Homo sapiens: one gene and its partner. The protein of the gene in region 1 purifies or fractionates together with the protein of each later gene. This does not show direct contact. Each region holds a gene or a part of one and is shown in the gene's direction. Other genes may lie near its edges. The genes, in order: ZFAND5 and MYH11.

Region 1 (4,611 bases):
CCTTTGAAGCTTATTGTACTGGCCTGCACCAGAAGATGTCTGCATTACTCATTGCTAAAAATGTGTAGCACAGAACTGCACTAGGATTAATTTGTTTACAAGAAGAAATTTAAACTCTACGTTTGGTTTTCACATACAGCAGCTCTATTGAATAACATGCATCTGAATTTTAAGTTGCAAAGGTATCTGAATAATTTTTCATGTGCATCTTTTGTCGAATGTTTTGGTTCAAGAAAGAATGTTTAAAGCTTTTTAAAAGACTTCAGTTCTTAATGTAACTGTACCCTTCTGCATGGAAAATCATAACCAACATGGCTGCAGTAGACTTCTTAGTGGTATCCAGCACCACTTGCAGAGGGCTGCTTTATCATATTGTACTTGGGTGTAGGACTCTAGTGTTCTTGGGTGTATTGCATGGGCTGCATTATCTACAGCATTGTACAATAACAACTAGAAAAGGCAGTATACTTCACTGATGCTTGTCTGGTAATAATCACTTCTGTGTTATAATGGAAGGTTTTTTGTGATGTATGAAACTTGTGTTTTTTATATATAAATGAGTATAGTTAGTGTTGTGGTAATGCCTGTTTTCATCTGTAAATAGTTAAGTATGTACACGAGGCACTACTTCTGATTTATTGCAATGTTCAGTCCTAGTTTTTACTTTTATTCTTAAAGCATTCAGTTTTGCTTTCAATTTTATGTACCTTAGTTCTGAGTTAGACCTGCAGATGTGTACAGATAGTTCATATTTATGTATTGCACATAATCATGCTATTCAGCATTGATGCTATATTGTATTATGTAAATAATAAAAGCCATGTACAGAGGGAAACTTCACTTGTTCATTGGGTTTTTAAGCCATAGTTGGAGTCCTAAAGGGGGAAAATTAGAAAATGTTACTTTACATGGCTATATAATTTTTTTTCCTTTGCCATCGCTGAACTTGTTCAAGTGATAATCAAGAGATATTAGAAGCATTTGCAGGTATGATACCTGATAGGCAGTTTATTTTTGAAGAATTCAATAGGCACCTTTGGGATTAAAACAATTTTAAAATTTGAGAAAGATGAAATTTGAACAATTATGGCCTACCTCGCTTCTCCATGTTGTAAAAGATGATGTTTTATGACAATTCTGAAGAAGAAAGTAGGTATGACTTAGTTTACAAAAAGAGTTCTGTTTTATTTCTGTTTTGGGTTTGGCTCTAATACAGAGATTCACCCATGGACTTGGTCTCTGTAGCGTTTATGCCAGATCATAAAGAACAAGGGGTGACAGGTACATGTTGACTTTACCTGGGGTAAATGATTACCAGAGTGCAACTGTTGCTTCTCTGTGATGGAGTTTGGGGTGGAAATACCCTAGTTTTATCTGTCAGTTCTTTGCATGCTGCTACTTTTGCTTCAAGTTAGGGAGGTACATATGTATGTCAAAGTTCCTATACTGACATAGGGTAGTATTTCTCTGAATATGAAAAGTCACAATTGAGTTGAAAATTTAGAAGTTGAAGATTTAGAAGGGCAACTTAATTTTTCAAGTTAAAAATGGAAGTAAGAGTGGTATAGAGAAGGTAAGATGAGCCCTCGGACTCCATCACTCTGAAGGTCTGAGTAGTAGCAAGAGATAGATTTTTGTTTGGCCAGGCTGCAGTGCAATGGCGTAATCTTGGCTCACTGCAACCTCTGCCTCCTGGGTTCAAGTGATTCTCCTGCCTCTGCCTCCTAAGTAGCTGGGATCACAGGCACCAGCCACCACGCCCAGCTAATTTTTGTATTTTTAATAGAGACAGTTTCTCCATGTTGGTCAGGCTGGTCTTGAACTCCTGACCTCAGGTGAGCTGCCCGCCTCGGCCTCCCAAAGTGCTGGGATTACAGGCGTGAGGCACCGCACCCGGCCAATCAGTTTTTTTTGTTTTTTTTTTGTTTGTTTGTTTTACAAGAAACATTAAACCAGATCAGAACAAAGATTTGTCAGGGTTGTCCATTGACTGGGGAGAAAGGGAATCAGTGTGTAAGGCACCTGAGAGGACTCAGTTCTACCCAAATTCTTGCATTCAAACCTGAATGCAAGGCCATGAAGTCCTTTGAAATGTACAGATATTAAGCAATTTAATAATATACCATGTTTCCCTTACATAAGCAGACAAATATTTACACCCCCATGACCTGAAGTTTTGTTAGGCTGTGACCACATGAATTCGCAGTATAAATGGGTGAGTCCTTTTTGAAAACCTCATCTTCAGTGTGCCTGATCTGTAAAACTAGAGCCTCAGGTTTGATCCTAGGTAGGCTTCCCACAACGTGGGGAAAATTAGTTTGTGAGGGAAAGCTGTTTCTGAGCATTATGGCATAGTGATTAAGATGAGGGACCCTGGAACCAGCCCGTGATTTTGGGCAAGTTATTTTAGGTCCACTTTGGACTGCTTCATCTCTTAAATGAAGACAGCAACCACCTTCAGGAGTGTGAAGGTGACAACACTTAAAACTGTGCCTGGCACATTGTATTTGCTATTGTCTTAATGTTCTGGAATAATGGTTTCCATAACTTGGGAAGAAAACTTTGAGAACAGGATTGGTTACATCAAGTTGTATAGTGAAAAGATAAAGATTTGTTATTTAAACTTGCAGTTTAAAGTCATTAGAATCATTCTTTTCCGTAAGGCTTTCTTTGCAAGAGATCTGCATTAAATAAAGTTGCTAGGAAATAACTAAAATTGGGGAAATAATCTAATAATAGCAAGATGTTAAGCATACTATTATTGTATTTTGGGGGTTGGTAATAACATTCACATGGATTTATCAATACACACTGAGAAGCAAAGCCTCTCAAGCTGTCCCATATCCTCCATTTCAAAGGCACACATACATTTTAGGTAACTCATAATTTAGAAAGGTTATTTAATCTTTTCCACATGTAAATATTTGAATATGTACAAAGACTTGATTTGACTCTTGTCTGTTTTTGTTTTGTTTTGTTTGTTTGAGACAGAGGCTCCGTCGCCCAGGCTGGAGTAAAATGGCATGGTCTCAGCTCACTGCAAGTTCCGCCTCCCGGGTTCACGCCATTCTCCTGGCTCAGCCTCCGGAGTAGTTGGGACTACAGGCACCCGTCACCACACCTGGCTAATGTTTTTTGTTTTTTGGGTTTTTTTGTATTTTTAGTAGAGAGAGGGTTTCACCGTGTTAGCCAGGGTGGTCTCGATCTCCTGACCTCATGATCCGCCCACCCCGGCCTCCCAAAATGCTGGGATTACAGGTGTGAGCCACTGCGCCTGGCCGACTCTTGTCTGTTTGAATGCAAAGTTCTCAATAGTGGTTTTTGTCCATAAGTATTAACTTATAATTTTGGAGAGTGATAGGTATGGTTGCTGGTTGATTAGCAATAAGATTATGTAGCCTTAAACTAGCTAGAAGAGTTTGCATGGGTGAGGCAACAGGCTGTTAACAAAAAGAAACTGGAAATACAGTTTCCCCTGTTTGTTTCTCCTGTTTGTACAATCTGCTTTAAAAACAAGTGAACATGCACCATGTCAGTCATGGTGAATCGGCCAACAGCCAGCCCTTGCCAGTTGACATCACAGTCTAAGATGGGAAACTGGTACAGATAGACATGAAGAGAGCTTAGCAGTGGTTGAGGTGGTGACTAAATATACAGTCATTGAATAAATACCGTGTAGCAAATGTAAAAAAAAAAAAAAAAGTACAACAGAATACAAAAGTGCCATTTAATATTTTATAGCTATTTCTATGCACAAGTGCTGGTTTTAAATTTATATAAAAGCAAAGACTGTTTCTGTGTTTTCTTCCAGAGTATTTCTGTTACAGCCATAGAAGTAAAGTTAATAAATGTAAGACTTTTTTTGTTTTGTTTTGTGCCATAAATGTAAGACTCCATTTTGTCTGCAACTGCTAAGTGCCACTTTCCTTTTATTATGGGTAGGGATGTTGCTAAGGATACTTAAGTAGTTAAGAGCAAGATGAAAGAAGTTACAGATTATTTTCTAGTTGGCTAATCTGTGTTGAATACATTTTTTATGATGATTTTTATTGACACCACAGGACCTCAGCCTGTATATATTGATAATGTAACCAAAGCTGCTCAGGAATTGGGGTAATTTTTCAGTCAACTCAGAAGTTAACAGGAAATCCTTGTTACACATTCTTAAATTTTAGATAAGTGCAAGAACTATTAACAAAATAACATTAAGCACTTACCTTGTAGAGCTCAGGCATCAGCCAGGAAAAAAAATACAAATAAATTAGCCTAATGACCTCATCTTAAATACTTGTGTCTGGGTAAATTTTTCAGACTGATCTTGTGAATATAATCCAGGATAAATTAAAAATGTTGGCTGGTCCTTGCTATGTAATATGCTTCTGCCCTCTTGTCCCTTCCCATCACTAAAAATGTATTCATACATGCAACTACAATACCAGTTGACAAATACGATTTAGATTTTCTGTTGTGTGGTATTTGTCTACTATTATAGAACCTCAAGCATTTCTCTAAAGAAAACTCTTACACATCTTGGTGTTGTGGTTTCATGTCCACCCTAATGAGAAAAGTTCTTCCTTAGTAGGGTCATGTTTCCTGAGGAACCCCTACCCT
Region 2 (3,815 bases), on another chromosome or scaffold:
GGTGTCAAACTCCTAAGCTCAAGCGAACTGCCTGCCTTGGCCTCCCAGTGTTGGGATTACAGACGTGAGCCACAGTGCTGAACCCTGCATGGTATTTAGAATATAAGCAATACTCTAACATCTGGTCTGGGTCACTCTGTATTACTTACCTGATCTCCAAAAACATTTGGGTTTTTGTCTCTGGTCCAAAATCTTTAGCCAATGGCTTGGCAGTAAAATCCTGAGGGAAGCTGTTGACCAGGTGAGGTGATGTGCAAATCCTATACTCTCTGGGCTCTGGGATATTTAATTTACTATTTATTTATTTATTTTCAAGACAGAGTTTTGCTCTTGTCGCCCAGGCTGGAGTGCAGTGATGGGATCTCAGCTCACTGCACCCTCCACCTCCTGGGTTCAAGCGATTCTCCTTCCTCAGCCTCCTGAGTAGCTGGTATTACAGGCGCCCACCACCACACCTGGCTATTTTTTGTATTTTTAGTAGAGACGGGGTTTCACCATGTTGGCCAGGCTGGTCTTGAACTACTGACCTCAGGTTATCCGCCTGCCTCGGCCTCCCGAAGTACTGGGATTACAGGCATCAGCCACCATGCCCGGCCTAATTTACTTTTTATTAATGCTGAAGCAGAGAGGGCAAGATCTTTTGCCCCTGAGTTCTTCTGGGAAAAATGAAACTGATGGTAAAACAAACTAAAGCAACCTGACATTCTCAGTTGGTCCAGTTTCAGCCCTTTGACTGGGAGTCACAGACGGGTCCCATAAAATGGTAGAGCTGGGCCAGCCTACCATTGATTTATTTTCCCTAAATGAAAAATACAAGGCCCAGAGAGGGCAAGTGACTTGTCCAGAGTCACCCAGCAGGTTTGGGGCAAAGCTGAGACTCGTTACTTGACATCCTAAGGTCTTCCAGAGGCTAATGATTAGCTTGTTTGTGCTCAAAAAATGAAGCAGCCTGGGCGCGGTGGCTCATGCTTGTAATCCTAGCACTTTGGGAGGCTGAGGCAGGCAGATCGCTTGAGCTCAGGAGTTTGAGACCAGCCTGGGCCACAAAGTGAGACCCCTGTCTCTACAAAAAAATGCAAGAATTAAAAAATTAGCTGGGTGTTCTGGTGCGTGCCTGTGATCCCAGCTACTTGGGAGGCTGAGGTGGGAGAATGGCTTGAGCCTGGGAGGCAGAGTTTGCAGAAAGCAGAGATCGCGCCACTTCACTCTAGCCTGGGCAACAGAGCCAGACCCTGTCTCAAAAAAAAAGAATGAAGCAGTTGTTGGTCAGGACAGGACTGTAAACAAGGCTGACACACTCAGATGTGTCAAACATCGCTAATGCCAAAGGTGACAGAGTCATTTGTTTTCATCCAAACATTCGAGAAAGTTGGACGAGGTGACTCACGCCTGTCATCCTAGAGCTTTGGGAAGCCAAGGCAGGAGGATCATTTGAGATCAGGAGTTTGAGACCAGCCTAGGCAAAATAGCAAGACCCCCATCTCTACAAAAAATAAGCCGGGCATAGTGGCCCACACCTGAGGTGGGAGGATCCCTTGAGCCCATGAGTTTGAGCCTGCAGTAAGCTATGATTGCACCACTGCACTCCACCCTGGGCATATAGTGAGACCCTTCCCCCAACCAAAAACATTGAGAGCAGCTCTTGATGAGTGAACTGTACTTCGTGGTCAGCAGTTCTGGGTAGTAATTTCAGAGATGTCCTTTCAGCCCTTGGAGCTGATGCAGGACCTTAAACATGAGCGATGGTGGAGGAGGGAGGGTTGGGAAGGTGCATCAAGGTAGATGAAGAGTGTCCCTGGGGTTGGGCCAACTGGCGGTCCGTCTCTGGTCCAGTGTGTTCACCTTGCCCCCGTCTGATCTTCTGCAGTTGGTATTCCGAGTTGAGTTTGACTAAGTGAGAGCTGCTCTCAGCTTTAACTGCCTTTCCCAAGACAGCCCTTGTTTTTATTCTAAAGCTGTGGTTCTCAACTGGAAGCAGTTTTGCCACCCCAGGGGACATCTAGCAGTGTCTGGAGACATTTTTGATTGTCATGAGTGGAGGAAGGGGTGCTACTGGCATCAGGTGGGCAGAGACCAGGGATGCTGCGGAACATCCCACAATGCACGGAAGAGCTCCCCTCACGACACAGAATGACGCAGCCCAAGAGTCACAGTGCAGAGTTTGTGGCCAGCTGCGGTGGCTCACGCCTGTAATCCCAGCACTTTGGGGGGCCAAGGTGGGAGGATTGCTTGAGGCCTGGAGTTCAAGACCAGCCTGGCCAATATGGTGAAACCTCATCTCTACTAAAAATACAAAAATTAGCCAGGCATGGTAGCGCATGCCTGTAGTCCCAGCTACTTGGGAGGCTGAGGCACGAGAATCACTTGAACCCAGAAACGTGGAGGTTGCAGTGAGCTGAGATTGCGTCACTGCACTCCAGCCTGGGTAACAGAGCGAGACTCTGTGTCAAAAAAAAAAAAAAAAAAAAAAGACTTAGCAACTATTATTACTAGTATTAGTATTATTAATTTGTCAGGCTCACTGAATTTTCTCAAAAATTTGGCAAATTTTTAGGAAAACATTCTCAAAACATTTGGCAAATCTGTGGCTAAATGTTGTTTTGGGGACCCAAGGCTCGTAGGAGCAAAACAGCTTTCAGGTTTCCGGATCTGCCAGAGACTCAAGTGTCCTGTTGTGTGTTTTGTGTCTCAATGAGGGAAAGGGGAATATGTAGCACCTTCCAGATGGATTTGACCTTGACTGCGCCACTGTTTGAAGAGCTTCTCAACCTCCGCAGCTCCACCCCAGCCCAGATATTTCAGGGAATTAGGGTTCCAAGGGGCATGCTATGGAAAACACCATTCTAGCATGAGTCGAAGCTTCTCATCCCCCATCTTGCTGTCTTTTGACCAAAGCAGATTTTGCACGTCGTAACTGTCAGAGACATCAAAGCCAGAGGGAATCCAGCCTGCTCCAAGCTCTCCTTTTTTGTACAGAGACTGAATCTTTGCACTTGATCTTGTTTGTGTTTTTAAGTCTGAGGTTAGACAGGGTCCCAGGCAATGGAGGCGTGCGTGTCCTTTTATTTTTCTGTTGTAGCTTTTGCTATTTTTTCTGACTTTTAAGGCAACTCATCCACATGGCAATTAGGAAGAGCCCACTTAGGGCTGGGCACAGCGGCTCATGCCTGTAATCCCAGCACTTTGGGAGACCGAGGCAGGCAGATCACTTGAGGTCAGGAGTTCAAGACCTCAGCCTGGACAACATGGTGAAACCCCGTCTCTACAAAGAATACAGGAAAATAGCTGGGCATGGTGGCAGGTGCCTGTGGTCCCAACTATTTGGGAGGCTGGGGTGGGAGGATCACTTGAGCCTGGGAGGCGGAGGTTGCCGTGAGCTGAGGTCATGCCACTGCACTCCAGCCTGGGCGACAGAGCAAGACCCTGTCTCAGAAAAAAAAAAAAAAAAAAAAGAAGTCCACTTTACTTGTCATAGTGCTTAGAACAAATGAAACACTCTCCTAGCCCTCTTGGGATGTAATTGGCTACCATCTGCACAAACTCTTCATTATTGCACAAGAATATCAATATACTTAATGCTACTGAACTGTGTTTAAGTGGCCGAGGTGGTGAATGTTAGCTGTATTTTACCACAATTAAAGATAAGAGGGAAGGAAAATGAAGTGTACTTTACAACCAAAAAAGTACGCTTGATGTGCAAAAAAGTGTGCAGCTTGATGAATTTTCAAGAGGATATATTTTTTATAGATGGGGGTCTCACTCTGTCACCCAGGCTGCAGTGCAGTGGCATGATCATGGCTCACTGCATCCCCGAC

Evidence for each region.
Region 2: the proteins of ZFAND5 (region 1) and MYH11 purify together in Homo sapiens (affinity purification with mass spectrometry; one large-scale study listed by BioGRID and IntAct). This does not show direct contact.

Annotation. Positions count from the first base shown.
Region 1 is NC_000009.12:72,350,682-72,355,292, reverse strand, and holds the end of ZFAND5 (AN1-type zinc finger protein 5), read left to right. Parts: 3' UTR 1-3,880; downstream 3,881-4,611. UniProt on the Homo sapiens protein: Involved in protein degradation via the ubiquitin-proteasome system. May act by anchoring ubiquitinated proteins to the proteasome. Plays a role in ubiquitin-mediated protein degradation during muscle atrophy.
Region 2 is NC_000016.10:15,846,884-15,850,698, reverse strand, and holds part of MYH11 (myosin-11), read left to right. Parts: intron 1-3,815. UniProt on the Homo sapiens protein: Muscle contraction.